Regions from separate parts of the Homo sapiens genome. Here regions 1 and 3 are each linked to region 2. Evidence: fine-mapped expression QTL. A gene starts in region 2. Each other region holds a variant in brackets. All regions are shown on one strand. Distances are from middle to middle. Region 1 overlaps PPFIBP1 (PPFIB scaffold protein 1). Region 2 holds the start of PPFIBP1 (PPFIB scaffold protein 1). Region 3 overlaps PPFIBP1 (PPFIB scaffold protein 1).

The links.
Region 1: its variant is fine-mapped to the expression of PPFIBP1 in testis (GTEx, PIP 0.94).
Region 3: its variant is fine-mapped to the expression of PPFIBP1 in tibial nerve (GTEx, PIP above 0.99).

The regions. Positions count from the first base shown.
Region 1 is chr12:27,642,947-27,653,168 of GRCh38, forward strand. PPFIBP1 (PPFIB scaffold protein 1) reads left to right here. Exons shown (of 30, transcript NM_003622.4): 5 at 3,116-3,202; 6 at 4,783-4,896; 7 at 7,064-7,195. Among named protein-coding and RNA genes, the nearest start is that of REP15, 48 kb to the right of the region's middle. The variant T/C (reference allele first, on the strand shown) is at 4,495.
Region 2 is chr12:27,518,379-27,528,600 of GRCh38, forward strand. It overlaps PPFIBP1 (PPFIB scaffold protein 1), which reads left to right and starts at 5,828. Exons shown (of 30, transcript NM_003622.4): 1 at 5,828-5,987. RefSeq lists enhancers at 4,645-5,246, 5,144-5,603, 5,850-6,450.
Region 3 is chr12:27,568,946-27,579,167 of GRCh38, forward strand. It overlaps PPFIBP1 (PPFIB scaffold protein 1), which reads left to right. Exons shown (of 30, transcript NM_003622.4): 2 at 9,207-9,294. Among named protein-coding and RNA genes, the nearest start is that of PPFIBP1, 50 kb to the left of the region's middle. RefSeq lists an enhancer at 5,071-5,365. The variant C/T (reference allele first, on the strand shown) is at 4,322.

The DNA.
Region 1 (10,222 bases), 120 kb after region 2:
ATATTATACTATTACGCACTGAGGAAGAAGGTGTCTAAGGGAGCTCACACAAGATGGCCTTAACTATTGTCCATTACAAAGGCTCTGAGATCAGGCGGTCGGTTAGCTCAGTTGGTTAGAGCGTGGTGCTGACAAAGGCTCTGAGATCACCTCCTAAACATAGTGGGAAGAGAGAGTACAGGAGGAAAAAGGAGCCAGTCTAGATAGAGGTCAACCATGGCGTGCATACCAGATTATAGAGGACACATAAATAAAGACCCACTGAGAAGCAAGAAGGGCAGATCAAAACCAAACCTGCAGTCATCTTGTATTCAACTAGTGTTTATTGAACACCTATCGTCATTCTTCCATTCAACAGACATTTAGTTATCGCCCACTGTATGTCACATGCCAAGGCAAATCTACTTGCAAAGAATGCAGAGTCTATTAGAAGAGAGAGACATGTATGCAGTCAAGTCTAACCTTAGTGCATTCAGAGTAATGCCTGCTGTAATGAAGGTTCATGTAGATACTGTCGCTGGCATATAGCAAACAGTGAATTCAAGGAAGACCTCACAGACCAAGCCCTGATAGAGGTGGACCTTAAGGAATGGGGAAAGAAGAAGAAAGGGTGGGAAAAGACGGTCCGTGCAGAAGGAATAAAAGTAGTGTGTGAAAGAGCATGCCATATATGGGGAGGTTTTGAGTGACCTGGTAGGTAGAACGTGGGAGTTGAAGGAAGAATAGAGACAATAGGGTATTTACCTAATGGATCTTACTGCCAACATTCTTAATGCAAAGGAAACAAAATTGGCAGAAATATAAACACAGGTGGACAGAACAGTCTTTACCTACTTAAGTTAACACAAGGATATAACATTGATCACTCTTAAATTCTGCCTTATGTTCCTATAGTGACTTTTAATATACTAAACTACCCTTGAGCATTATGAGTGCTTGTAAATATCAATACAGTACTGAGAAAAATAAATATGCTAATTTTGAGCCAATTTTCAGTATCTGTTTCTATTTGGGGCTAATTTTGGAGAACTGGTTTTGGAACACCTCACTTCCATATCATACAAAGTAGCTTGGGAGGAAACATTGCTCTCATCTTGCTATAATTTCCTCCAACCAGAAGAAAGATCAGTTTGTTTGTTTGTTTTCTTAAGACAGAGTCTTGCTTTGTTGCCCAGCCTGGAGTGCAGTGGCGCAAACATGGCTGACTGTAGCCTCCACCTCCTGGGCTCAAGTGATCCCCCTCCCTCAGTCTCCAGAGTAACTAGGACCACAGGCGCACACCACCAAGCTTGGCTAAGTTTTTTTTTTTTTTTTTTTTTTTTTAAGAGATAGGGTCTTGCCATGTTGCCTATGCTGGCCTCAAACTTCTGGGCTCACACAATTCTCAGCCTCCCGAAGTGCTGGAATTACAGGTATGCACCACCACCCTTGGCCAGTTTTACTTTTTGTCCTCACTAAACAGCAGTTTTTTTCTACTTACTGAAATGTATCTGTTTCCAAACTATTGTTACTTGTATGGGATTTTAAAAACAGATGGCTGTTAATGTCCATAATCAAAATAAGGAATTTAAAGCTCTACAGGGCCTGTCTTGGCACTTTCTTAAGATTGAGAACATGCGTTATTCATCCTGGCTCTTTTCCAAAAAACTGCCCTTGAGAAGTTGTGCACAATTTATTTTTATGTTAGTCCCCAGGAATGGAAGTTGTCCAGGCCACTCCATCACACTCTTCATAATACTTGTAATTTAATGCTGGGCACTTCAGTTAACAATATGAGCAGAATTATGCCGTGGTAATTGTAGAGGTATGTGGCAAAGCAGCTGATTTTAAAATTTTAATCCACTCTAAATATGCATTGCACCCTTACTAAATTAGCCTCTGATTCTTAGTGGCCTTTTGGAAAATGTATTCAGTATGCTAAAGTTTTTAGAAAAAACATTCTGAAATTTTCCTTTTCATTCAAGCCCTGTTTTTTTTCTTCCCCCTTCCCAGCACATGACTTTTATTATTCCAAGAATTGATACTAGAAACTGCATTTATTGGAAAGATAGAACAATGGTATCAGTTAATTCTGGAAAAACAGTAGATGTCACATCAGATGTGTCCTGGGCAGTAAAGTTATACAGTTTGTATTTTTTCTGGTTCTAAATCTGAAGGTATTATTTTCTTTTTCAGTTGAACCCTGGGTGGCCCCATCTAACACTTTCGGATTTCAGCTGGCTTTTATTTCTATTGTATTTGAATGAAGAATCAGGAAATTCTATTGGGATTACATTATCTTATGGTTATGTTGAGATTATGAGAGACACCACTTATGCTACTACGTACGTTTCAAAGTGGTGCTTTTAGGTTTTCTGTTCTTTGTGAGCCTCTTTGTGTGTCTTTTTCATGACTTGCATGTGAGGCAGCTGAGGAAGAAACAATCTATACATCGTTTCTCAATCTATACTTCCTTTGGCATTTATACCACGCATAAATATACTGAAACATGATTTTTTTTTAAAAAAGTGTGGGGGGCAGGAGGGAGGGGAAGAAATAGTAAGCATCAATATACACAGAGCACTGAGCCAGATGCTGGGGAGGTTACCAAACGAATTATAGGCTCTGCCCTGGAATAGAAGGTAACGTTATACAAAGAAGCAAACTCACAAGTTAATAAGATCAGGACAAAAAGTGTTAAAATGGAGATAAGTGAGGCTAGTCTGCGCTACCAGGGGAAGTCACTGTGGCCTGAGTGTTTAAGCTTTTGGAGGAAGAGAGACAGACCTCAACAACTCGGGGTGCCCCCTACATACTCACAAAGCTTTGCCTGCCCCTGGGTGTGTGTCTGCTCTCAGTGAAGAATACCAGTATCCACTGTTCCTTGTGGGTCATTATTTTCTGCTTGATAAGAAATTGTTTACTTTGGCAAAACATGCCTATATGCTTAACATGCCTGTCTTACCTCTTTTGTGGTAAATGAACCAAATTGCATTCTCGTATTTTCTGTTTGACAGTGACAGCTGTGCAGATTCAATTCAGGCCCCTTGGACTAAGAACACTTGTGATTTTCATTTATCTACGATATATCATTCTTAGAGAAGATCAGCCTTACCCATATTACTTCCTTTTTCAGACAAATGGACACCTACCAGGGAACGGAGATGTGTATCAAGAAAGGCTGGCACGTTTAGAAAATGATAAAGAATCCCTCGTTCTTCAGGCAAGTGATTTTTAAATACTGTTCTTTCCTTGCAGCATACTTACAAAGCCTTTTAAATTGGGGTGGCAAATTCAGATTGCTTGCAGCAATCAGACTGCTAATAGAAATAAGCCTGATAAGCCATCTGTACACAATAGGGAGTGGTGAGGATTGGGGCAGAATGATGGTGTTTACACCCAGTTTAAAAGGAGCTACCATTAATCATCCTCAGCTCTTGCAGGACCAGTCTGAATACGGGCACAATGTTGTCTGATCTGTTCTTTTTTTTTTTTTTTTTTGGAGGCGGGGTCTTGTTACATTGCCCAGGCTAGTCTTGAACTCCTAGGCTCAAGCAACCCTCCTACCTCAGCCTCCCAAGTAGCTGGGATTACAGGTGTGCAGCACCATGCTTCACTGGATCTGATTTTTAAGTATATTTTAATATATAGCAGAAATTCAGATATATGAATATAGCATAACATCTGAATATATGTAAGTTTATATTTCTGAATCTGAAATCAGAATATATATATTTAATTTTTCAATTTTAAAAATGTTACCCTGTGTGAGACAAAACAAAACAGTGACTAGAACCCTCCTTGTGGGCTAAATTTGAGTTTGCTTCTTCATAATGTTTTAAATGCTTCACAAACATTTTTCTTTGGTATATTGAGCAAAATGAATTGAAGTATATTTACTGAGTGATGATTATTGAGGAAAAACTCAAAGATCTGCTGTAAGCACTAGAGTTGAAGGACTAGCCCAACAGCTCCTCAGGCACCTTTGGGTATATTGAGTTGCCCCCCCTGACTTTGAACACATCTATGATCTGTGTCATCTTCAAAGAGCTCATGGAATTTGAATTCCCTGGGTTTTGTTTTTGTTTTTGTTTTGGACGGAGTCTCGCTCTGTTGCCGAGACGGGAGTGCAGTGGCACAATCTTGGCTCACTGCAACCTCCACCTCCCGGATCCAAGCGATTCTCCTGCCTCAGCCTCCTGAGTAACTGGGATTACAGGCACATGCCCCCACAGCCAGCTAATTTTGTATTTTTAGTAGAGATGGGGTTTCACCGTGTTGGCCAGGCTGGTCTTGAACTCCTGACTTCAAGTGATCTGCCCGCCTCAGCCTCCCAAAGTGCTGGGATTACAGGCGTGAGCCACCGTGCATGCTACCTCTCCCCCCTACCCCTGGCCAGGTTCTTTTTCTTATTCTCCTTGAAGTATCAAATTTTTGATAATTTCTATTTCAAACATTAACTTTGTTTCCTCTCTTATACTATCTCCACGCTGCCCCCTAAAAAGATAACTTCTG[T/C]ACATGCTGTCTTTCATAAATGGTTGAAGTAGCTTTAACCAAAAAGTATTGTACATTCCTAATCTACACGAATTTTCTCCAAATTGTATAGGCCTCCTTAAATCAAATAGCAACATATAAATAGGAATGTGAGGGACCACTGTCTTCTTGGTACTTCTCAGATTTTTTTTTCTTTATAACCGTATGAATGGTAGGATCATTCCTTTTTTTGTTCCATTTAGAGAAATAACGTATGCAGTGGGACCCAAATTCTTTTTCACTCATTGCATTATTTTGCTCTAAATACAGGTAAGTGTGTTAACAGACCAGGTGGAGGCTCAGGGAGAGAAGATTCGAGATTTGGAGTTTTGTCTTGAAGAGCACAGAGAGAAGGTGAATGCCACAGAAGAAATGCTGCAGCAGGTATGTGCAGAGGCCAGAACCAAGATGGGATTTCCCTGCTGAACTATGTGAGATGCTGCATTTCTATGTTGTGTTTGCTCTGATGCAGCAGTAAGTTTCTTGATTCATTTAGACCAGCACATTAAAAAAAAAAAATTGAGAGTAGTAGAGTCTCAAAACACATGCACACAATATAAAGTGTTTATGTAATTAGAATCTGGAACAAAATGTCAATAGGATTGTGGCTTATTTTAATTTTCTTTTTTTGCATTCAGATGGTTTCCTCTCACCCATAGCATGTGTTTTATAATTAAGAAAAAATATAATAGTAAAAAATCTAATAATCCAGTTTAAAAATGGGTAAAATATTTGAATAGACATTTCTCAAAAGAAGACATACAAATGGCAAACAGACATATGAAAAGGTGCTCAACATCATTGCTCATCAGAGAAATGCAAATCAAAACTGTAATGAGATACTATCTCACCCCAGCTAAAATGGCTTTTATCCAAAAGACAGGCAATAAGAAATGCTGGCAAAGATGTGAAGAAAAGGGAACCCTTGTACACTGTTGGTGGGAATGTAAATTCATACAACTGCTATGGAGAACAGTTTGGAGGTTCCTCAAAAAACTGAAAATAGAGCTACCATATGATCCAGCAATGCCACTGCTGGATATATACCCAAAGGAAAGGAAATCAGTATATCGAAGAAATATCTGTGCTCCCGAGTTTGCTGCAGCTCTGTTCACAGCCACCAAGATTTGGAAGCAACTTAAATGTCCATCAACAAATGACTGGATAAAGAAAATGTGGTACTTATACACAATGGAGTACTATTCAACTATAAAAAAGCATGAGATTCAGTCATTTGCAACAACATGAATGGAACTGAAGGTCATTATGTGTGAAATAAGCCAAGCCCAGAAAAACAAACATCTCACGTTCTTACTTATTTGTGGGATCTAAAAATGAAACAATTGAACCCATGGAGATAGAGAGTAGAGGGGTGGTTACCATAGGCTGGGTAGGGTAGTGGGGATGAAGGGAGAGGTGGAGGATGGCGAAGGGGTACAAAATAATAGTTTCCATGAATAAGGCCTAGTATTTAGTAGCACGTCAGGGTGACTATAGCCAATAATAATTTAATTATACATTTGGAAATAAGAATATAACTGGATAGTTTGTAACACAAAGGATAAATGCTTGAGAAGATGGAGACCCCGTTTTCCATGATGTGATTATTACACATTGCATGCCTGTATCAAAACATATACCCCATAAATGTATATTCCTACTATGTAGCCACACAAGTAGAAAAGAAAATATCTAACATATAGGAGAGGCTCTGTAAGGTCATGGATGGAGTATGCACTTGAGCAAAACCTCGTAGGTTTCCATTCCTGCTGTGTTTTTATTTTTTCTTTTTCCCTGTATGACATTAGGCCAGTTCCTAACCTCTCTGTTACTATGTTTCCTCATCTTTTGATTAAGGATAATAAGAATTTCTACCTGATAAGTTTTTTGTGAGGATTGAAATAGTATTTGTTACAACCGGTGCCTGGCACATAGCAAACATAGTATCACCATCATCAATGTTATCATCAGACTGAAGTATATATATGGTTTATGCATGTGTATCTACACAACATATGTCTCCCTCAGTAAACTGACATGTGCTTATTTCTGTTCAAAGGAGGGTAACTAAAGTGAATAGTTCTTTTTTATTTTATTTTATTTTATTTTTGAGATGGAATCTCTGTCTGTTGCCCAGGCTGGAGTGCAATGGTGCGATCTCCGCTCCCTGTAACCTCCGCCTCCTGGGTTCAAGTAATTCTCCTGCCTCAGCCTCTCAAGTAGCTGGGGTTACAGGCACCCGCCACTATGCCCGGCAAATTTTTGTATTTTTAGTAGAGACAGGGTTTCACCATACTGTCCAGGCTGGTTCTCAAATTCCTGACCTCAAGCGATCTGCCTGCCTCGGCCTCCCAAAGTGCTGGGATTACAGGCATGAGCCACTGTGCCCAGCCTCAAGTGAATAATTTTTTAAAAGTGTGTAGATTCAGTAATTATACTTCACTATATCCTCTACTTGATAGGTGCTGCTTTGTGCGATCATAAATGAGGTAAATTCACGTGCCTGTTTATAATAAAAGACTTCTTGAATGTATCTGTTAAATTATAATAGGAGCTTCTAAGTAGGACATCCTTAGAAACTCAGAAGTTGGATCTGATGGCTGAAATATCTAACTTGAAGTTGAAACTGACAGCTGTAGAGAAGGACAGATTGGATTATGAAGATAAGTTCAGAGACACAGAGGTGAGTGATACAGTCTCTCCTCCCTCTCTCTCTCTCTCTGTCACTCTGTCTTTGTCTCTGACACACATACATTCCTAGGGCAAAGTTGAAATTCCCTGGAGGTGTGCAAGGAAGGCAGTTAATTACTACGTACCATCATCCTACTTCATTTTAAGAATAATCTTTCATTGCATTGACTTTTTATCACTAGATGCTAATGGCAATTTTTATTTTTAGACTTTTGATATGAAGTATTAATCTTTTTATTAACCTTTAGAAATACTTTTGACTTTACGATATTTGGAGCATCCGTCCATCCATACTGTTTTTCTTAATTTTGTAAATAATGGGCTTAAATACATGGTTTCACTAGTAGTTATTATTTAGGCACACTGATTATTTACTATGTAATTGGATTTTGAAAATCTGTATAGAAAACATGCTAACATTCTATACTCACAAAATCACAGACAGAGCTTTTTTGAGGTCTTTTAATTTGGCATTCTACTTTTGGTCTGTTCCACATGTAAATCATTCCAATTAAATAAGACTCACTGTACTTCTACAAAAATCAGGGTACATTCTGTAACTTGAAGTATCCATTTTAGTGGCTTAACAAGCTTTATTGTTTGTTCTATTTTGTTAATTCAGGCCTCCTAGTTTGTTTGCTTTGTGACATTTGGCAAGTTCTTAACCTCTCTGTTGGTTTTTGATGGAGACAGAGAGCATATCCATTTGAAACATACATTTGAAATGAAGTATAAAGAGTTGCAGAAATTTCTTTTCTCTGAGAGCCATCTCCCCTCCTTTTTGCTTCCTATTTTGTTTCCTTGGTTGGAGTATGGAAGGGTGTCATGCTGGATTAGAAAATGGGTACCAAGGAGAGAGGAGAGAAAATGGTTTACTTATTTTTCCCTTCTGTTTTTATTTCAATCATGTATTTCACGCTGACTATAAGCCAGCATGATACCAGGCATTACATACATTATCCACCATAGGAAAGTTCTTTATATTGGAAATAACAAGTTTTACTCCACTGCTATTTTCAAAATTAAATTTTCTGTCAAAGATTCAATTACAGTGGAAAGTCTTGGTATATGTCTTGCTTCCTCCATAGCAAAAGGAAGTCTTTCATTTGGTTCATGTTTTAATCTTTTTTTTTTTTTTTAAGAGATAGGATCTTACTGTGTTGCCCAGGCTAGTATGGAACTCCTGGCCTCAAGCAATTCTCCCATTTTGGCCTCCCAAAAGCACTGAGGTTACAGGCATGAGTCACCATGCCCAGCCATGTTTTAATTTTAAAACTCTTTGTCAGTTGCCTGTGTGAGCATGTTTCTCATTTGATAGAAGCTGGGGCTCTTAAAACAGGACTTAGAAAGTTACCCAATTTAAAATTCTTGGTTTTGTATTTTCTCTAAAAATCTCTTTGATATTTTCCTCTTTCCCCTCTTTTTGTCAGGTCCTAACCCCATAGTCGCAGGGTAAAGTAATAGTAAAACTCAGTCAACAGATGGGCAACATGGCAGTGGAGCTAGCTCTGCTGCAGGGAAGAATTGATGGTAGATATGGATAGAGGTGGTCTTCTACATTGCGTCCACAAAGTCAAGGGGAAATATTCACCTGTTGTTAACTTAATTTGTATATGAGATGTTAACCAAATGTTGGGGCTAAATTGCAGTAGATGTGTTACTTATTGTTGTAAGCGCCTAGGGTAATATTTATATCCCTTGAGTTTGGCTGCTTTTTTTAATCAAATCTCTTTTCCCCACTTTTTCATTGTTTCACTCATGCACTCTCAATCACATACAAAGTGATCTTGTCATCAAACTTCCTGTACACTCAATCCCTGATAATCTAATAAAAATTCAGTGTTATTTCTAAAACGTATGCACAGACCCGGAGATTAGAGCATATGTGGTAAACTTTGTGATGTTACATATGAAAATAATTAAAATAATCTTCAACATTAAACTAACTTGAATATTCTCATGTTCTTGTTATCGTCCCCTTAATAAAAATATTTTTCTGGGTGTTTCATGAATCCATAATATTTAACTTTCTCTTAGAATTTTAGATTTATATTTGGATATTAATTTCCAAGAAAATATTGGCATGGGGAAGAAGTATAGGCATTTCCAAAGGACTGAGGGTACAAGTCTTTAAACTTTGGAAGATTCAGGACTTGTCCCTGGAATTGCTAATGGGAGATGATTAGCATCATTCAACAGTGCCCCCTTGTGGTAAGAGCATACATGTCAGAGACTGAGTTCCTGCAGGAGCCCTGAATTCTCTGAAAGGGAAAAGAGAAAGGGAACAGGAATTTTCTTTTTTAAAAGGACTGAACTTCTGATAAGAAATTGATTGAAATAGTTTGTATTCTGTTTTTTAAAGTTTTACATTAGGGAGCCATTTCCAGATTTTCCAGCTTGTGTTGTCAGGGGAAGATGTGATTTATTTCAGGTTGGAAATTTAGACCATATTTAAAGTATTGCCATGAAATATAGTTGAGTAGTTTTTTGTTAAAACAGATAAATTATCCCAGTTTACAATTCCATTTTTTTCAGTGGTTTCTTCTTTGCACGAGCAAAGAAGAAAGGAAGCTGTAAAATACAATAGCAGATAAGAATTCAATGGTATTTCTTAGCAATGAGAAAGTAGGAAAATATATATTTAGAAAGATCATATTGATGAATATCACTAAGGACTCATATTATGCAAGGATGATTAGCTTAGATAACTGGGAAAAGCTGATTTTTTTCTTTAGACTTGAATTCTGACCTGTTAGTTGAGGAATCACAAATATGTTGCTGAATAATGTCAAACAGTTCATGACCTAATTCATAAGAAGAAAATAGATATCATCTAAGTGAAATATTGTGCCATTATTAAGGTGTAATTGTATAACTATGATAGGTAATATTTTGCCCCATTTTATAAGAGACCACAATTTAAAAGCCTAAGGGTTTACTGGGAAGTGTTATTTTATTGTAGCATCCCTTCTCTTAGCCTTTGTGAACTTGAATCATTACACTTGGAAGCTTAAAATAA
Region 2 (10,222 bases):
CTTGACAGCTGTAGAAAGGCTTGGGCTGCTTGGGGCAAACATTATGCAGATCACCTACATGCAATGAAAAACAGGAATTGCTCCTGTGTATTGAAAAGGCTGGCTCCCTATCTTGTTGACCTGTCTCAGAATACAGAAACCAGACATACTTTTTAGGAGATTCAATTAAGGAAGTTTGTAATGAGGTTAATTGTTGAAGAGAATGTAATTTGTTTAGTTTAGTCATTCGTTGAACATTAATCAAAGACCATGAAAACCAATTATCCTTATTTTTAATTAAAATTTTTCAACTTATAAATAGACTAATAAAATGAGTAAGTTGAATGTAACTAGATTTTTAGATGTATCTGGTGGGTAACCAGAGAATAACCAGCACAATTGGGTTGTAAGGAAAAAGTGATTAAAATAAGACTCCCCACTTGGAGCAAGATATTGTGCCTATTTCTAACCTGTCTCTATGGGCAAGAAGGGAATGGGGAGGAGGGTTGGATTCAGAAATGATGTCAATGGTGATAGCTAGGTAGTGGCTTAGTATTCAATGAAAGGATATTAAAATAACGTCTGGATTATCACCAATGCCACGCTTAGGATCAGACAGAATAAGCAGTAATTTCCTTTAGAAGGAATTCTAAAGCTAAGCTTGTTTGATTTGGATTTGGGTTCATGATTTATACCATGTGTTTAACCCACTCTGTGTTTGGCAGTGTGACTGGGATAACAACAACTGGAGGCACCCAGATCCTTTGTGATCAGTCTGGTCAAGTTATTCCTGAACTTCTGAAGACCTAGACCATAGCAGGTTATGAGTTTCAAGCAAAAGACAGCATTCATTCACTTATTCATTCAGTGAATATTTAATCAATGTCTATGGGACAAAACATGGTTCTAGATCCTACAAAGGATGTAAAGATGAAATAAATTAGCATTCTGTTCTTGAGGACTGTAAGAAACTTGGAGCCAGAAAGGAACATAAGGCACCTATAAAAATTATAGTACAATTGTTTTATGTTGTAGGAAAAAGGAAAATATGTTTGCTTATCACCTATGATGTGTCAGGCAAGGTGCTCTGTCATCTTGCATATGACATCTTGTCAGATCCTTGCAACAACACTGTGAGGTAGATTTTTGTAGAAACAGGCAAAAATCACAGTGAGGATGTATTATTAGGAAATATGGGTGCAAAGTCATGCAGTGCATGCAGTGTGGGCATATGAAGAAGAGTCGAAAATAAGTTCAGAAAGGTAAGTTGGGGGCAAGGATGTGAAGGCTTTTGGACACCAGTCAAGAAAGTTTGATGAGTTTTGTTCCTTGGTAAAGGGAGACTCATTTAAGTGTTTAGAGTCAGGAGTGATCAGGGTTGTGCTTTAGAGAGCTGCAGCTGGAAGCCTGTAAAGACCAGACAGGCAAATGCTGTGGATTTGATGAGTAGGGTGAGCCTCTTCTGGTACCTGCATCCAAAGAAAGGGAGGTGTCCTCAAGCCTGCTCAGATTTGGGGATGGTGTAACTAAAGAGTCAGCTTGTTCTGTTACTGCAAAGGGCAGAAGTGAGAGTGTAAATTGTGGACAATCAATGCTTCAGACACAGAAAGACAAAATAGGTTTGGAATCAAATAGACCTTGGTTTCAATCCCAGTTCTGGGGGAATCTGGAGCAATTTACTTGTATAACCCTGGAGAGTGATTCCTCATGTCAAAATGATGCTAATAACACTTACCTTACAGGATGTTTGTGAGGATTAAATGAGACACAAGACAGATGTCTTTGGGGAGAAAGTCAGTAAAGCAGGATCCAGATGGATATGAGAAAGATCCCTTTTTTTTTTTTTTTGAGATGGAGTTTTGCTCTTGTTGCCCAGGCTGGAGTGCAATGGTGCGATCTCGGCTCACCGCAACCTCAGCCTCCCAGGTTCAAGCAATTCTCCCACCTCAGCCTCCCGAGTAGCTGGGATTACAGGCATGCGCCATCACGCCTGGCGAATTTTTTTTCTATTTTTAGTAGAGACGGGGTTTCTCCATGTTGGTCAGGCTGGTCTCGAACTCCTGACCTCAGGTGATCCGCCCACCTCGGCCTCCCAAAGTGCTGGGATTACAAGCGTGAGCCACCACGCCCAACCGAGAAAGATCTTTAATGGTGGGCTGCTTGCTTATTTTGTGTGTTACTGGTTGCCAGATAAGTTCAAGCAGGGGTTGGAAGCTACCTGTAAGGAATGCTGAAGAAGGGTTTCTTGCATTTTAATAGTGGTTGCATCAAATGACTTTTAGGATCCATTTCAAGTTCTAATTGAGCAGGTGTTCTCCTGCTCTGCAGTGTCTCTTGCTCCCTACCCCGCAATAGTGATACTCTTTGGCAAAAAGTTACCAAAGGTAAGGTTAGTCATAGGAATAACTAGGCAGAAAATATCTAGACCTACAGAATAAATTAGCGTTGAAATCATAGGAATCATAAATGATCATTTGCACTAAGCCAGCCAGGAGCCGGGATAGTGAGGAGTAAGTTCTGGCTACCTGCTCATCAGGCATCCTGTCTTGCTTCTGCTGCACTATCCTGATTTTTTTGGAGTTTCCCCAAGACACCCAGAGGCCAGTGATTTCAGTATGTTTATTTAAGGGTTACACTGTCTTCAAAAAATGAAGTATCATGGTGAAGCCTAAATGTAGAGCAGATAAAAGAGCTGTAACTCTGGTTAAAGGGAGGTAGAAGGAGGCTGAAATCTCAACCATTGGTTCCTCCCTCACCCACTCTGTAACCTCTAGCTTGAATGTTACTGCTCCAGACCTGGCCCGTTTTCAGCCTTCCCTTTGAGTCTTTTGTTTTCTGGATTCTGGATGGCAGCTGTTATCACTCCAGCTGCAGAAAGGATGGGAGGCGACTTCCTGTTTTTCTATCCTGCCATCTCTGTGGGGGTGGGACATTCCCTCCCCCATCTCCTGTGGCTGGCTGTAGTTTTGGAAAAATGTGAGCCTGGCTGCAGCCGTCCTGACTAGGGCTGGAGGAATGGCTGGTAGCCACCCAGCCTCCGTTTGAAGGCATCTGGGAGCAAGGCAGGCAACAGACACTGATGGACAAGTTGTGTCCCTGACTGTGGGACAGGGAAGGGTCAGTAGTTAATTAAGAGACAGGTGAAGTAGTTGGTCCAGAAGTGATCTGAGGAAGTTAAGGGTGTTGAACGAACGGTGGGTAGGGGTGTGGGAGAACAGAAGGGCTCTGGCCCTTCTGGCATAAAAAGAGAGAAAGAGAGAGGAAAAAAAGAACAAGAAGAAACAGTTAAAGTTTTTGTCTGAGAGATTATTTGGGGATAGACTGCATTTAAAGAATGGAAGAGAATAGAAATGATACAATGATCTATTTTCTCATGCCCTATATTTTTATTGAGCCTTTTCCTTGAATTGGGTATAAGGAATATAAAGAGGTCCTATAAGCAAGATGCTTGCTCTTCAGAGTTTGGGAAGGCAGGAAAGGCATTTAACTGGACATGTATAACCACATGTTTACACATCTGTACAATCTCAATCCTTATAACAACCTTTAACATAGGTATTGTCAGCCCTATTTTAAAGAGGAGGTAACTGAGATTCGGGATGGATGTTTTAGTGACTTGCCCAAAGTTACCCAATAGCTAAGTGGCAGAGCCAGGCCAAGAACCTTGAGTCCTTTTCTCTGTCCACTGTAACACACAGCTAAGTCTTGGCAGAGGACAAGGACTTTAATTTAATTAGGCTTTGAGAGAAGGGTGGGACTTAACCCACAGAGGAGTGGGGATTTCGGTTAGGCTGAAAGGTGAGAACGAAGCAGGGATCTGTGAGTAGACCTGTTTGACTACAGAGAGGGTTTCCTGGGAGCGAAGTGGGAGATAAGCTGGGAAAGGTAAGAAGCAGGATAAGAGAGAGTTTTAAATGGCTAGATAAGAATTGCAGGGAAAGGGGGACCTGATTTAGAGGGGAAGATGTTGATGACAAAACCAAACATTTTAGAAAACTCATCGGTAGTGAGTGGTACAGAGAAATAATTAGAACTGGGGGAAACTGGAGTCAGAAATTCAAGTCAGGAGTTTGGAATACTGCAGGTCTGACAAGCAACAAGATGGTAATTATATAAAGTAGGTCTGTGAGAGCAGTGGCCCAAGCCTGTGGATTTCTTGTAGCATTCTATTGTTTGAAAAAGTATAAATTATGGACACTCAATACTTGAGATATAGAAAGAAAATCAATGGCTTTGGAGTCAAATAGACCTCGGTTTCAATCCAAGTTCTAGCTGATTTGGAGAAATTTACTTACATAACTTTGCTGAGCCTTTGATTCCTTACGTTAAAATAGGGCTAGTAACACTCAATTTACAGGATGATTGAGAAGATTAAACAAGACACAATGCTGGATTCTGTGCATCCCTCTACAATTTTTGGCAGATCGGTAAATGTATGGCATGTCATCAATCAAAAAACAATGAGGCCTGGTGTGGTGGCTCACGCCTGTAATCCCAGCAGTTTGGGAGGCCGAAGAGGGTGGATCACCTGAGGTCAGGATTTCGAGACCAGTCTGGCCAATATGGCGGAAACCCCGTCTCTACTGAAAATACAAAAATCAGCCGGGTGTGGTGGTGGGCGCCTGTAGTCTCAGCTACTCGGAGGCTGAGGCAGTAGAATCACTTGAACCCAGGAGAAGGAGGTTGCAGTGAGCCAGATCATGCCACTGCACTCCAGCCTGGGTGGCAGAGTGACCTGTTTAAAAAAAGAAGAAAAAAAAGAGAAAGTTATTAATTCACTATATTTTTAGAAGATGGTGGGTTATATGCTACCTATATCTCATACAAATAAAGCTGCTTTTCACCATTCAGGTCTGCCTGTAAGCAGCATCTGCCTTGAAAGAACCATTTTCTGAGAATCTTTTTCTTCTGTCAGCCAAGGGGATTATACCGCATGATATCTGTCAAGGATAAACGTTAGTTAATTCTTAATTGAGAGCTCAGCCACTACAATTGGTTCCATTCTACAGTAATTATTCTCATGTGGTTTGTGGAACTCAATTGTGAGGTCCCTCCTTCCTCCACCCTTTTCAGTGTGTGCATTGAAACAGCAGCCTTAAGGTCTTTAAACGGGGAAATACATTTTTCTTGCTTCAGAGATTCAATTTTACTTGCCCGAGAAGCTTGTGTGGTGTGATTTTCATCGCTAAAAGCAACAGCAGCCACATGGCTGACAACACCACCACTTAACAATTCAAAGCTCGGTCACCGTTTTCAGGAGTCTCTTCCAAATCTTTCTGAAGTGCTTTTGAAGTTCTACATTCCCCGTCTAAGGGAACACCCAGCAGTCCCAGGATAAAAGGGCAGAAGGGTGAGCTGACGTTTTCCTTTATTTGCATGGCTTAAAGCTAGCCATTTTCTACACCACGCGCCGCCGGGCTTGTACATGCCCGTGTGCCTGTGACACCGAGGCAATTGTTTCTCCTTAAAAAGGGGGTTCGCGTGGGTTAGTTTCGTTTCTGATCTGGAATCTCAGTAACTACAACAAGAAAAGTTTAAAACTCGACCCGCCAGGTTCTTCCCCATCGGATTATCTCCGTTCCTTAGAGATAGCAGGAAGGGCAGCATTTTCTTCCATCCACCCACTTCCAGCCCTAGTCTGGCTCAGCGAGGAATGCATAAAATTAGTGGACTCCTCTGAGTGACGTTCCCCGGCTCCAATCAGCGGGCGCGCAGGCGCCCCCGGCCCCGCCCCACTGCTGACTCTCTTTGGCTGATTCCTGCAGGGAGGGAGGAGAGAAGGGCGGCAGTGGGAGGGGGAGGTACCTGGAACTGGGAGTGATGTCAGCTCCCAGCTCGGTGCCTGCCCGGATTCCTGACATGGTGTAGTGCAGGCAGGGTGGGGAAAGGACGGGGAAGGACTCGTGTGCTGCGAGCTGGCGGCCGGGCCGGAGTGCTGGGGCTTTGAACTCCGAGAGGAGGTGGACCAGAACTTTTGGAACTAGTGCCGGCGGCTCTCCACCCCCCAGGTAAGGGCGTTTTGCTCCACTCCCAGACGGGAGGGAAGTGGCACCGTTGTGTGGCTGCAGCTGGCTGTTGCAGCTGCTCCTCCTCTTCCCCGGGTCGATTTCCTTGTGCAACTCACTCCTGTTTCCCAATGGGAACGGGCACTTTTTGGGGGTGGTGGGGGTGGAGGGGTAGGGCTTAACTCCTGGGGCTTGGACCGAGCTTGTACGTGAAGAATACTCCAGGATTGGACGTTTAGGTCTTGTCTGTATCCTTAGACCCCCACACCCTAGGCTCCCGGTAATACCTGAGAACCCCAACCAGAGGGGCGTGTGTGTCTCTCTGTCTGTGTGTATTGAGGCATTTAAAAATGCCACAAAAAATTATGGATCATCGACTCAAAAATTATGCTCGTTGAAAAGAAAAAAAAAGTTTTGTATTTTTTTGTCTCCTTGTGGCCTATTATATATTAAAAGAATATCAATGTTAGTCTTATATATCAATGTAAAATATCCTTTTGTGTAATCCAGTCAGGATGTGAGAAATTCACTTGGGGTGTTTATTAATTATGAGCTTGCGGGAAAACTCGTCTCTTGGGGGCACACTTCTAAAACTGCAACTAGTATTCACTCATTTTAACCGAGAAATCCCTTCAGCTGCCAGCTTTATATCTGGAGAGGTTAGGATGGCTGCTGAGAATCTTCAGATCTGTTTCCTGTGGCTGCTTGAGGGGCGAGCTGGTAGTTGTGTTTTCAGGGATCTTTTTTAGAGAAGGGAGTTTTAACAGGGAAACGCGGTGGAAGGCGTGGCATATAAACTCTTAATTATAGGGACGTGAAGTTTTCAACATGTGGGACCAAAACAAATCCTTGCTTTCAGTAAGAACTGCGGAGAGCAATAGAAAAAGAACTTGATTTCAAAGTCCAAGTTTGGTATTTTGAGAAAGCAATTGCGGGAGGAAAAAGATACTTTTAAGAAGTGAAAGAATAGAATTCTGATTTTTGTTTATTTCCTATTTCAAACCCTGTCTTTTTCCTATGTGGAGATTTTGTGTGCCCAGGTCACTAACTGGGTGTGATTGACTTTCTCGAGGGGGCGGGGAAATTGACTCCATACACCGATTCAGGACCCTCTCATCAGTGCTTTAAGGCTCTCTTTTGGAGCAGGAAGGAAAAAAAAAAAAAAAAAAAAAAAGTAAGCGCTGAGACTCCTGAGTCAAGTTTCCCCTTTCCTTCACCGAAGTTCCTCCTCAGCAGTGAGGATCCTACTGTTGCCAGGTCTGGAGGAAATGGGAGTGGACTTCATTGTGAGTCAAAATCCGTATCCCAGGCCCCTGAAGGGAAAAGGCATTTCCAGGAGATGGAGAAAGAAAGAAGCCACAACAGTAGGTCTAGTAAACCCAAGTCAGGAAAAGGGATAGAGGACTATAGATGGGGTTCTCTATCTTTCTAGCCAAATGATCATTAGGTTTCAGAACTAGAAAGAAGTGTTTGGTTGTGCTGTTGTTTATGACATACCTGGGTCTGTATTGTTGTTAGTTCCTGAAAAAATTAAATAGAGTGGATAAAATAGCAGGCTTTTTGAGAAAGGAAAATTCGCTTTATTGGAAAGACAACATTTTAATTTTGGTTTGTATTTTGGCTTAAGACACAGAAATTGCAAATGGCTCTGCAATAATGGTGAACAAGTCTTTTCTATTTATGTTCTATGGGGAGTACATAAAACATACTGTATTTTCCAGTGTACTTTTTCAGTAGGATAGAGCTGTGGAGTGGAGTTCCTGTGGGCTAATGTGAACTCACGGTAGTGTTCCTTGGCTGATAGTGTTCCAACTGCATTTGTAATACCAAAAGATGGGGCTGCAAAAGCCAGACGGTTCAGTAAAGAAGAGTATCTTTAGGATGTTATCCTTATGTGCCAAATTCAGATTTACACTTTCTTTCCAAGAAACTAGTCCTAGTTTAGGGACTTGAATATACCAAAACTCTAAATTTGATTCACAGTTTGAATAATAGCAGTAATTTTACATACTTAATTTAAACCAATATTTCTCTTTCTCAGTCCATGTTTATGAGGCAGATATGGTGTAGGAAAACACGGAATACTTAAAAGATGTTTGAGTTATTGAGAAAGGTAGGATCAGTTTTTGGTTAAATTCCTGTGACCAACAACTGTCATATTTCCAAGAGCAACTTTAAAAATTAAGGTCGGCCAGGCTTGGTGGCTCACACCTGTAATCCAAGCACTTTAGGAGGCTGAGGCACGCAGATCACCTGAGGTCAGGAGTTGGAGACCAGCCTGGCTAACATGGTGAAACCCCATTTCTACTAAAAATACAAAAAAATTGCCGGGTGTGGTGGTGGGCACCTGTAATCTCAGCTACTTGGGAGGCTGAGGCAGGAGAATCGCTTGAACCCAGGAGGCGGAGGTTGCAGTGAGCTGAGATCTCGTTATTGCACTCCAGCCTGGGCGACTAGAGCAAAACTCCATCTCAAAAATAAATAAATAAAATAAAAATTAAGGTCATCTGGCCTTAATGGATAAATGTTGATTTGAAATCCAGGACACACTGAAGTTCCAGATCAATAGTGCCTAATTTCAAGGGCATCACTGACATTTTTTTGGGAACAAGTTCACCGAGGGACAGTTAATTAACTGTTTATGTAGTCTTTTTGTAGCTCCCTGTTCCACCGTGAGATAAATCAGAACAAGGTCATTTTTCCCCTCAGTTACTGACTAGCTGACTTCTTTTAAAACCTTTCCTATTCATAAAATATTTGTATAAGTAAATTTAGATTATGTTGATAATTTGTTACATTAAAATTAACTTTTCGTTTATATCCCAAACCAGCATAATTTTCAAACTGTTAACTGAAAGAAGACCTCATTCAGCACTCTGTCTTTTCTTTTTTCTTTTTTTTTTTGAGACAGGGTCTCGCTCTGCCGCCCTGGATGGAGTGCAGTGGTGCAGTCTCGGCTCACTGTAGCCTCTGCCTCCCAGGTTCAAATGATCCTCCCACCTCAGCCTTCCCTGGGACTACAGTCATGCACCAACATGCCCGGTTAATTTTTGTATTTTTAGTAGAGGCGGGTTCTCACCATGTTGCTCAGGCTGGTCTTGAACTCCTGGGCTCAAGCAGTCGACCCACCTTGACCTCCCAAAGTGCTAGGATTACATGAGTGAGCCCTGGGTGCCCAGCCTGTCTTTTCAAAGATGTTATTACGTGTCTCTGGCCTAGTTTGAATTACCTTTTCAAAACGATGAAGGAGTGAATTAATGAATGCATATTCATTCATGTTTGGGTCTGTGTCTTGATTCTTTATTAAAGAAACGTCGCTTCAAGGCGAAAACATAGGCAAGAAATGTTGCGTAATGACGTTTTTATTTTCAGAGATTTCCTTAGAAAGTCATATTAGCTCCAAAATTAAGAAAAAAAAAAATCACAGTTGAGCAGCCAGTTGTGAAATCTTTCAGGGAGCCATAATCATAACTATCATGATTATTTTGTTATTTTTAACCGTGGCCAAACAGATGGATTTAAATATGCGAGTCAAAGCTGTTAGGGTTACTGTCTCATTTTGATGCAGGGTATTCTTTGCTTTTTTGTTTGTTTGTTTGTTTTTGAGACAGAGTCGCTCTCTGTTGCCCGGGCTGGAGTGCAGTGGCGTGATCTTGCCTCGCTGCAACCTCCACTTCCCGGGTTCAAATGATTCTCATGCCTCAGGGTCCCAGTTAGCTAGGATTACAGGTGTATACCACAACGCCTGGCTAATTTTTGTATTTTTAGTAGAGACGGGGTTTCACCATGTTAGCCAGGCTGGTCTCGAACTCCTGACCTCAGGTGATCTGTCTGCCTCAGCCTCCCAAAGTGCTGGGATTATAGGAGTGAGCCACCACGCCTGGTTATGCAGGGTATTCTTTGTGAATAAAGGGAACAAAATGTCTTCTGGCCAGCATTTTCTGTTCAACCAAAGGTGGATAACTTCACAATTAAATCAGTTATCAAACTGTCCAAAAACTGCTCTGGGCTCTTGTAATTCAGTGCATCAGTAGTGTGTTATGTCAGTTATTTTTCAAATTTATTGCAGTGCACGTCAGAACCTTCTTCCTAGTAAAAAACAAAACAAAACCCTACAGCTTTTGTCATATATGTCACTGCCGCAAAAATTGATGCTGCGTTAAATGGAGCTCATAAATTTAAAACTAAACTGAATTATTCCACCCTACAAAATACATAGAATCTTTCTTTTACACCCT
Region 3 (10,222 bases), 51 kb after region 2:
CTCTGTTACCACAGAGAAAAAGGTCAGAAACCAGAGTCATAGAGTCATCAGTGATGTCTGCTTCTTCATGCCCCAACTGAATCCCCTAAATGCTTTTCTCAGTTTTACTCTTCCCTGCATTCTCACTGCTAGTTCATGGCCCTGAAACCATAATTGCATCCCCTGCCTCCAAATTCATCCTCTGGTGTGGTCTCCAGAATGATCTTTTTGAAATTCTAATTTGATGTTGATTTTTCTCCCGCTTTAAAGCCTTCTGCAGTGGGCTCTGAACCTTTTTCATCAGGGTACTGCTGTCATCAAACTTGTGAGCATCTCCTTCAGTATGTATATTTATTATAAATAATACACACATTATTGCACTGATATATTAAATACTGTAAACACACCTACAAAGTAGAAGTCTCGTATTATCTTTCATACAACACAAATAGTTGTATGGCTATACATAAATAGTTGGATGGCTGACTATGCCTTCTGGTCTGACTGCTGAGGCACTCTTTAATTCACCCCTCTGCTTTCCTGCCCACTGGCTCTCTGTCAAAAAGTCTCCCTTCCTCATTCTCACATGTTCCTACTCACCTCAATCATTCCTGTGCATATATCTACATTTTTTTGTTTGTTTGTTTTTGAGACGGAGTCTTGCCCTGTTGCCCAGGCTGGAGTGCAATGGTACAATCTCGGCTAACTGCAACCTCTGCCTCCCAGGGGGTTCAAGCAATTCTCCTGCCTCAGCCTCCCGAGTAACTGGGATTACAGGCACTGGCTACCATGCCCAGCTACTTTTTTGTATTTTTTAGTGGAGACAGGGTTTCACCATATTGGACAGGCTGGTCTCAAACTCCTGACCTCATGATCCACCTGCCTCGGCCTCCCAAAGTGCTGGGATTACCGGTGTGAGCCACCGCGTCCAGCCTACATTTTATACAGTTTCCAAGTTTAGATATTTTAGATCCTGTTCTCCATGGTCTTTAGCATTATAGCCTTGATAATTTCTTAATTTTATTGCTTTGACTTCCCCAAATTAATTAAACCATTTACCATCCCTCTAATAATGGATATTCAGATATTTCCAATTAGTTATTGTTATTTAGAGTTCTACAACATCGCCACCGGTGAGAGTTAGGATTTTTTGTGTGTTTTGGTATATGTAAAATGGTAACTCATGGCTGTTTAATATGCATTTTTGGTTACCATTGCAGATGAAATTTTCACCATATATTTATTTTCTTTCCCAATAAGACTAGGATTTCAATTTTTTTCTTAAAATATATACACTTAAATAAAGTTGTATTTTACATACTATATAGTAATCATTCCTTTATCGAATATGCAGTTCTGTTAGCTTCCCTAATAATAAAATAGCTGGATACTATTCTGCCTATTTGTTGGATGAGAAAACTTGAGGCTTAGCTAGGCTAAGTAACTTGACAGATCATATAGCTAAAAGTTGTGGACATGGGGTATTAAAAGTCAGGCTGATTGATTTCAAATTCTACCCTCTAAGTCATCTTGCTTGCTTCCTTTGACAAAAACAATACCTAATGTTTATAATAAAATTATAAAGTACAGATAAACAAAATGAAAAATTAAATCACATTTAATTAATCTGAAATCCTGCCACACAGTAACAACCACTGTCAACATGTTGTCATATGATAGCATACCTCAGAGGGAGACACAAGACCCACTGACTGGGGGTGGGAAGGGTTTTGAAAAAATGTACATAAGGCCAAGGTGGGCAGATCATGAGGTCCGGAGATCGAGACCATCCTGGCTAACACAGTGAAACCCTGTCTCTACGAAAAATACAAAAAAAAATTAGCCGGTTGTGGTGGCGGGCGCCTGTAGTCCCAGCTACTCGGGAGGCTGAGGCAGGAGAATGGCGTGAACCCGGGAGGCAGAGCTTGCAGTTAGCCGAGATGGCACCACTGCACTCTAGCCTGGGCGACAGTGAGACTCTGTCTCAAAGAAAAAAATAAAAATAAAAAAATAAAAAAATAAAATGTGCATATACCTCTCCTTTCATCTCCCCTCCCACATCTCTCTCTAATTAAAGATGTTACTGGTAGTAGACTGCTCTGGGATCTGTGATGAAGGGGAAGAAGAAAGTGTTGAAAACCATATTCTTCCTGACTTTTATGTGTGTGTATATTTATGAAAAAGCAGATCCTTTAGTATATTATGAGGGTCCTTCTGTGTCATGAATTATTGGTAACCACTCCTGTAACCTGGTTCTGCTTAATATTCTGATGGATGTACCTCAGTGTACAAACATTGGATTGTTTCCATTTTTTAATTATAAATATTATAACATTCTTGTGAAAGGAGTATATATTCATCGTTGCTCATTTTTCCAGGTTTTTCTTGTAAGTCTAATAAATGTAGAATGAAGGGCCAAAGGCTATTATATTTTTAGGGCTTTTGATGAGCATTGTCAATTGCCAATTTACCCACCGAAAAAGCATGTATCAATCTGGTCCGTGGTAAAATGAGAGGGAAAATGGGGGAGGAGATGAACCCACCAATCCATTTTTTTTTCCCTCAAACACACATGATGCAGAGAACATGGTTGTAATCTGACAATGAAAATGTGCCTATTCCATGTGGGGCATTTTATGGGAAAGAGTCTCTACTGTTCTTGCTGGGTCAGTAATGATAGAATTCATAATGAGCCAACCCACTTTTCAGACCTATGATGACCTCACTGGGGTGTGTTAGTTCCTGCAGTTCTACCGACATGATAAAGTGTTATATACCAGTGGGCTGAAGTCATTGTTTTTATTCAATCACTATACAAATTTCACATTAGTTCAGAATGGCCTTTCACAATGCTTGTGGGATCTCAGTGGTTTGACTTCATATTTTTTGAGTGATATTTGCAGTAACACATTGGTTAGTGATTTAGTGGAAATACTTGATTTTACAGGATTTCTTAGGTATGGGTGCCTGAATTTTGAGAGTGGCGCAGTCATTTCTCTCACATTTTCAAAAAGATAGAACATATTTCAGGACATTTATAGAATGCTTTTTTCCTCTGAGGACATGATGACTGACTGTAATCCGCAATCTCTGATTTCTACCCTGATGCTTCAAGAAATGTACAAATAATGAGAACATCTACTCTAAAGTTCTTGCCCCCAACTGAATTGAAACCCACTGTTTAAATATATTGTTATGTAATTTTTATGCTATAATTCATATTTTTATATAGTTTTAATACATTGTTATGTAAATTTTGCACTTCAGTCCATATTATTCTCATATAAAATAAAGTTTTAAAGTATTTGCCACAAAGAAAAATTGGTATATAATTGGTATACCAGGAAGCTGAACCATGTTCTTTCCTTCACTAGGCTGCCAGTACAGTCTCACACAGCATATTACTCTACATATGTTTACTTTTATATAAAACTTTATGGCAGACTTTAATCATTTCAGTCAATTCAGTCAAAATTTTCAAAGAATGACAACTTTTGAATTCCACAATTGCTCAGAATCTTTGAATTAGGATTTTACTGTGGAAAATAAAAATAATTTGGCAGTATTGGCAAAGAAAGCAAGCCATTACTAAACACTTCAAATATGATTGCAAAGCAACATGTTAATTTAAAAACATGTGGGCCTGTTTGATGTAATATGTCAATAGATATTGCAAATACTAAAATTTTGCAACCTCGAGGGAAATTGACTACAGTGACTTTTATTTTGGCATGGAAAATGGGTTCACTGAGGACTTTGGGACATGGGATTATCAGATTATTCATTGAGCTAGTATTTACAACACAGTGCTTAGTACTGTGGGAACACAGAAAAAACTGCACACTAAACCCTTTAAAGCATAAGGCATGAATCCCAAGCCCTCATCCATCCTTAGATTTGCAGATATACCATAACATGTAATTTCTTCATCTCTTTAATGTCTATTTATTTTATTGGCTAAGGGCTATCACTTTCTTGTACCACTTGATCTTCACTTTCATTGCTAGGACTGACCGCTGGCTTTTTTCTAACAATCCCACAAAGAAATAAGTTTGAAGTTTGCTCATAAGAGTTACTAGATAGTCAGAAAACAAAGCTTTCTTGGAATGCAGATGTTTATTGGTTGGCTGGGCTCCATGTAACTAACACAGCCCAAGCTTGTGATTTGAATTTGCTTCTCAGCTAAGTTAGCTCTACTTGTCAAGGACTCTTCATCTACAATTTGAAAATGCCAAGCATCTATTTGAAAGAATCTGTTATTTGAGAAACAATGTCTTATTGAGAAAGCAAAACAGACTTTTGGAATATTTAAACAGTGAACATTAATACATGATTAAATACC[C/T]GAATGAATGGGTGGTGGAAATAGTAACGGGTGTTGGCAATGAGAGAAAAGGAAGACTACATAGGGACATAATATGAAAAGGCTTCATGATTTGGGCAAGATCTAAGAAGCCAAAACCATATTTGAGCCACAAATATGGTTTTGAGTGTGTTGCTAGTATAGGTTTTGATGTTGGTAGTAGAGGAGAAAATAGGGTCTTTAACAAAGGGTACAGAATGAGTATGGCCTCAGAAACAGGAGTAGATATGATATACTGAAGAAAAAGCCGGCCATCCTGGAGGCATGAAGACCAAACATGGAAGGAGATGAGGTTGGAAAAGTTAGAAAGACAAGATGTGGAAGGTCTTTAAAGTCAAACTCAAGGATCTAGACTTTACTCTGCAGACATTGAAAACCAGTTGGAGACTAGCGTGATTAAAAAGAAGGTTAAAAGCCGGCGGGTGCAGTGGCCCATGCCTGTAATCCCAGCATTTTGGGAGGCTGAGATGGAAGTACTACTTGAAACCAGGAGTTAGAAACCAGCCTGGGTTACAAAGTGAGACCTCATCAGTACAAAAAAATAAAATAATAAACTAGTCAAGCTTGCACACCTGTATTCCTAGCTACTCAGGAGACTGAAGCAAGAGGATTGCTGGAGCCCAGGCTTTCGAGGCTGTAGTGAGTTGTGATTGTACCACTGCACTCCAGCTTGGATGACAAAGTGAGACCCTGTCTCTTAAAAAAAAAAAAAAAAGCCCAAAACAACAAAAAGATTAAGACCATCTCTGCACATGACTTGGTGATGAGTAATTTAGTGCTATGTTTTCTCTCGATTTATTTGGAATCATATAAACCTATCTTTCAGTACAGAAGGGCACTGAGTCACATTTAGGTGACATATTTCCTCCCAAAATCCCAGAGAACTTCAGGAAGTGGTGGGGGTGATTCAGCAAGGGGACATCTTCCTGACCATGTGATGGTTGTGGCTGGATAGAGCTCTTTTTGCCAGGCTATGAGAACAATCTTTCCGTAAAGTCTGTTGATGCTTACTCAACGTTTTCTCAGATGGAAACTTGGTGGGGGGTAAGACTAGATGGGAACAAACTTGGAAGATTTAGAGTCTCTCTGCTAAGTCTTCCTCCTGAAGCCTTTCTGAAGGGCCTGAACTTCCTGGAGAGGCCTTACTTACCAAGGAAAAGATAGATATTGGTCAGTTAGCTTGATTCTTTGATTACTTATGCTAAAAAATAAAGAATGATAAGCTTTTATATTCCCAGTACCCCAAGATTAGCTCTAATCTTAGATGGGTCTTAAAAGTCCATGGAAGTCCATGTATAGTCTTATTTTTGGTATCTTAACCTAAATTATGCAGAGGTATATTTTACTGGATTGACCTAACATAACTAACAGACCTTTTGAGATTTTATTTTGTATAATTTATAAAATGGAAAGTATTATCAACGTAGCATAAAGATTAAGAAATGAGCTCAGGAGCTGGACTGCCTGGGTTCTGGTCCTGATTTCTCCACTACTTAACCTTGGACAAGTTATTTAACCCCTCTGCCTTGATTATCTCATTTAGAAGGTGGAAATAATTTACTTCTTTCCTAGGATATTTGTCAGAATTAAATGAACAGATTTGTTGTTTATTTACTAAGAGCAAAGCTCTTAAAATATTCCCTGGTATATAAGTTCCCAACGAATATCACAATTAGTGTATCATAAATGAAAAAATTAAAGCAGTTAAAGGTTAAGTGACTTAGGTAATTATCCAGCAACATGACTATACCAGGATTAGCATTTCTTATTTTAAGACAGTCTACTGAAGTAGCAGGCTTTTTAGACCAGAGGTCAGCAAATCTTTTCTTAAAAGGCCAGATATAAACATTTTATACTTGTGGATCTTATGGTCTCTGTTGCTACTACTCAACTCTGTTATTGTGTCTTGGAAAAATCAACCACAGACAAAATGTAAATGTATGGGTGTGGCTGTGTTCCAATAAAATTTTATTTACAAAAACAGGTGGCAGACCCACATTTGGCCTTCTTACAGACCCTTGCTTTAGACACTTAAGTCATATCTGAAAGGAGACTATAGATTCCATTTCATTTTGAAGGCTGAGATATGGCATTATGTATTATGATAAACAGAAACTTTGATTTTTAATGATTGTTTAACATGTTAGTCTCATGATGGTCATACTTTAGGATAGCAAAGGGATTTAGAAAATAAGCAATAGTAACAAATGTGTTTTTTATCTCAAAGAGATCCATAGAAATCACTTATTTAACAGTTGGAGAATTATCTTGGAATTTGAGACCTGAGGTTGTGGGCAGGATGTTAAGAGTTTGTTTGATTAAATGGACCCAAATATAGACTGGTTTCTTTTTTGCTTCTCTATGTATGGGATAGGTTTGTGAGTCAAATAACAAGCTATTTGTATTTATGCTTGTCATTTCACTAAGGGTTTTTCTTCTAGAAATGCTGTTTGCATGGGTTTGGATTTTTTTATGGCTTACTTTTCAGTTCGATAATGTGTTCTTGTTTTCAAATTAAACTTGTCATTGAGATTTTTTGCGAGTGGCTATGTTGGTTAGTTAGTATTTATAGCTTAAGTCTGTTTCTGAGGAAATGACTAAAGTCTCTTCATTTGATCAAAACTGTAGAACAAAGAACATCTTTGACTTACTTAAACAAGTCCTATGATGAAAACTCAAAAAATATAATGGTTCATGTTTATAAATGTTTTTGTGTATTCAGTCCTGGTTAGGCCAAATAATCAGAGCTCTGTGCTGAGGGAGGGATTGAATATACTCAGTGCCTGTTAGTTAATGTGAATTTCTCTGGAGCACATTCAGGCAATACTTATTTTCTCATAATCCTCCTCCCATCTCTGCCCCATCCCCCACCGCTTTTTTTTTCATTTAACATATTGTTTTGAATTGGATTTTATAGAACATAGGTTTTTGTCTTCTTCTTCTTTTTAAACTATTCTACTAATTTTCTCCTTTCTTATTCCTAGCCAAGAGCCCTGATCCAGGTGAAGCGTGTAAACCTTGCACATGGAATTCCCAGCAAAGAGGCTGGTGGGGATCGGGACAGGGCCTGGGAAGTGACTGACTTGCAGAAACCCGCCATGTCTTGTTCTCTGCTGGAGACCTTTGCTTATCCATCTTGTGAACATCTGCAGCCTCCCCCTGCAGCCTAATCTTGCCCTCTTACTGTTGACTCAGTCCTCATGGAAGTGTAGGTGCCCTTCCTTCTGCTCATTACGTTCCAGAGCAGGAGATGAGGGGGCTAAGTAGGGAAGAAGAGAAGGCCCAGCTCCTGTCTGCTCAGACCCGGACTGACCTCTGCCCTGGGGCTCAGGCTGGGACTTGTATTTTACCATAAAGGCCCTATGACAGGTGGCGGTTGGATTTTGGTGTTAGATCAGCTGTGTTGTGGACTGACTGGGATTTTCTGCACTAGATTTTAATCTAATTATTCTTTGGTAACATTGATTGTTTCAGCTCTTTCATAAACAGCTCAAGGCACCACTTCTCCAACTAAATCTTGTGTCTAAGTCTGAAACAGATGAAAGTGAAATCGCTGTGCCCATGGCTGCACATCCACTCACTTCTGCCTCTGCTCTCTGAAGCATCTTAGGGTGGGAGTCCTAGGAGCTCACTTTGAAAACTGCTCATTAACATGACTGTTTACTTTCAGAGCGCACCCTAGTCTTAAAATTGAGCTTGCCTGTTTACATATAATAAGTTGCTTAAAATTTGCTGGGATTGGTGTGTATATATGGGCCATATATGAAGCCAGTGGTAGGAGAAAGAGGAATGGACAGATACTTACCTGATGTGATTTGATGGGGTGTTGAGAAATTCCACGATGAAAATCCACACCCCCATTCATTCCTGAAATGCCATAGCCAGTAATGCATTTTATTTCACTGTTAAGCACCTGCCTTTTCTGAAGCTTTTTTTTTTTTTAATAAAAAATGTCCTCATGAAGGATATCCATTAAGTTGTTGCAACCTTGGAGCTGATCCTTTTGCTTCCCTACTTGATTAAACATCTGGGGTTAATGAATCCTCACAAGGACAGATAGAAGGAAGGAAACAGCCACATCCATACGTCATAATTTTGTCTAGAACTGGCCCTGACTCTTTATGCATTTGTAAAACATGTATGGGAATATCTCTGGTATTTAACTTGGAGACACCTTGCTTTCTCCTTTGGATGCAGTTAGTTCTGAAGTATTTGAAGAGAGGGCATCTCAAAAGGAACGTTCACTGTTCTTAAATATTCTTTTAGTACCAAAATATATTTTATTACTGTATCATGGTGAGGATATATGTTCCTGTATATACTAGTGGGGATTTTCCCCTAAGTATGAGTTATTCAAGAGATAAGAGAATCAAAAATGCAAGTCTGAAAAATAGTGTATGTATTTCTACATATTTTATACAACTTGTTCCTGTTGGACAACAAAATAATAAATTGTGGACATTTCCCATTTTTTTTTACCTTAACGACAAAATATTGCAAAACCGTGGTTCATTCATTTACTCAACAAACATTCATAGAGTACCTACCATGTGCTACTACTACTTTGTGCTATAAAAATTAATGATGGTGGCTTCAGCAGAAAAATTAGTCATCAGGGAATATTTGAGGTTGTCCAGTAACTGAGGAAGGAAGGGAGAGAAGGGTGGAGTGCTGGACGGGGAAGAAGGAAGAAGGAGGATAGGAGAGAAAGGATGAATGGAAGGAAGTCCTTAACACGTTTTGTTGTTTTTAATTACACTCATGTTATCTAGTTTAATATTCTTTATATAATCAGCCATTTGCCACTTTTATTTTTTCTGATGTGCTATAATTTTAACTTGTCGTTTTTGTATTTGTTTCTTTTCAGTATAAAAGAACGTGTGGATCACTTTGCTGAGTACATCCAAGATTTGAAGAACTGAAATAAATCAGCTTTAAACCTGCTTTTTAAAAATGTAAGTGAACTCACTTCTGGCCATGGTTCATTTCAGACTCTCTAAAACCTGCAATTTCCTCTCAGTGTGTGTGAATTTTTTTCCAGGAGTAAAGTTACTTGACTCTAGTGAGTCTACTCATTAAGTCTAGGAGTGTTTGTATCTGCTCGCCCTTTTAAAACCTGTAAATTCTAAGAGTAGTATGAATAACATAGGTGGCTGTAGGATTTAGACGCGGTGTGGCAGGCAGTGAGCAAATCTTCATTTGGCACTGAGAAGGAAGACACAGACTTGGTAGAACATAAAATAAAAAGCACAGCCCTCTTCTCGAGTCCTTCATCACTCTTCACCTCACAGACCATTTCACTACCTTATCTACACCAGCGAGAATTGCTAGTTGACCCATTAATGACCCAGTAGGCTTAGAATATGAGGTATTGGTTTCTCACAGGCATATTTACCCACTTTCTCCCTATTTCTCTTGCTCAGTAATAATAACTACTATTTATTGAGCTTCTACCAAGTGACAGGCATTTGATTAATTCGATTCCATGTTCATTCTACAAATAGTGTTTCTGAATGCTTGCCGTGTACCAGGCATGGCCCTGACACTACTTATTACCTTATCTTCAAGGCACCCTTGCAGGGTAACAGTTAACACTTCAGTGATCTGGATGAGGATCCGAGAGAGGTAAGGAGCGTGCTGACAGTCACCTAGTCAGTGAGTGTGAACTGTCTGACTTTCTCTGATTTGCCATATCCTAAAGCGTGCTTAGATGCTTTTCCTGGCATGGATGTCAATAAGAGATTGGAACCTTCTGGATCATATTCATAATAGGACTGTGATTCTCACCCTTTAAAACCTTGGCTGGAGTCACAGAAAGAAAGGAAGTTAGAGAAACATCCTGTCACACAGCTTTGGTACCTGGGTGGGGAGCTAAGAGATCTG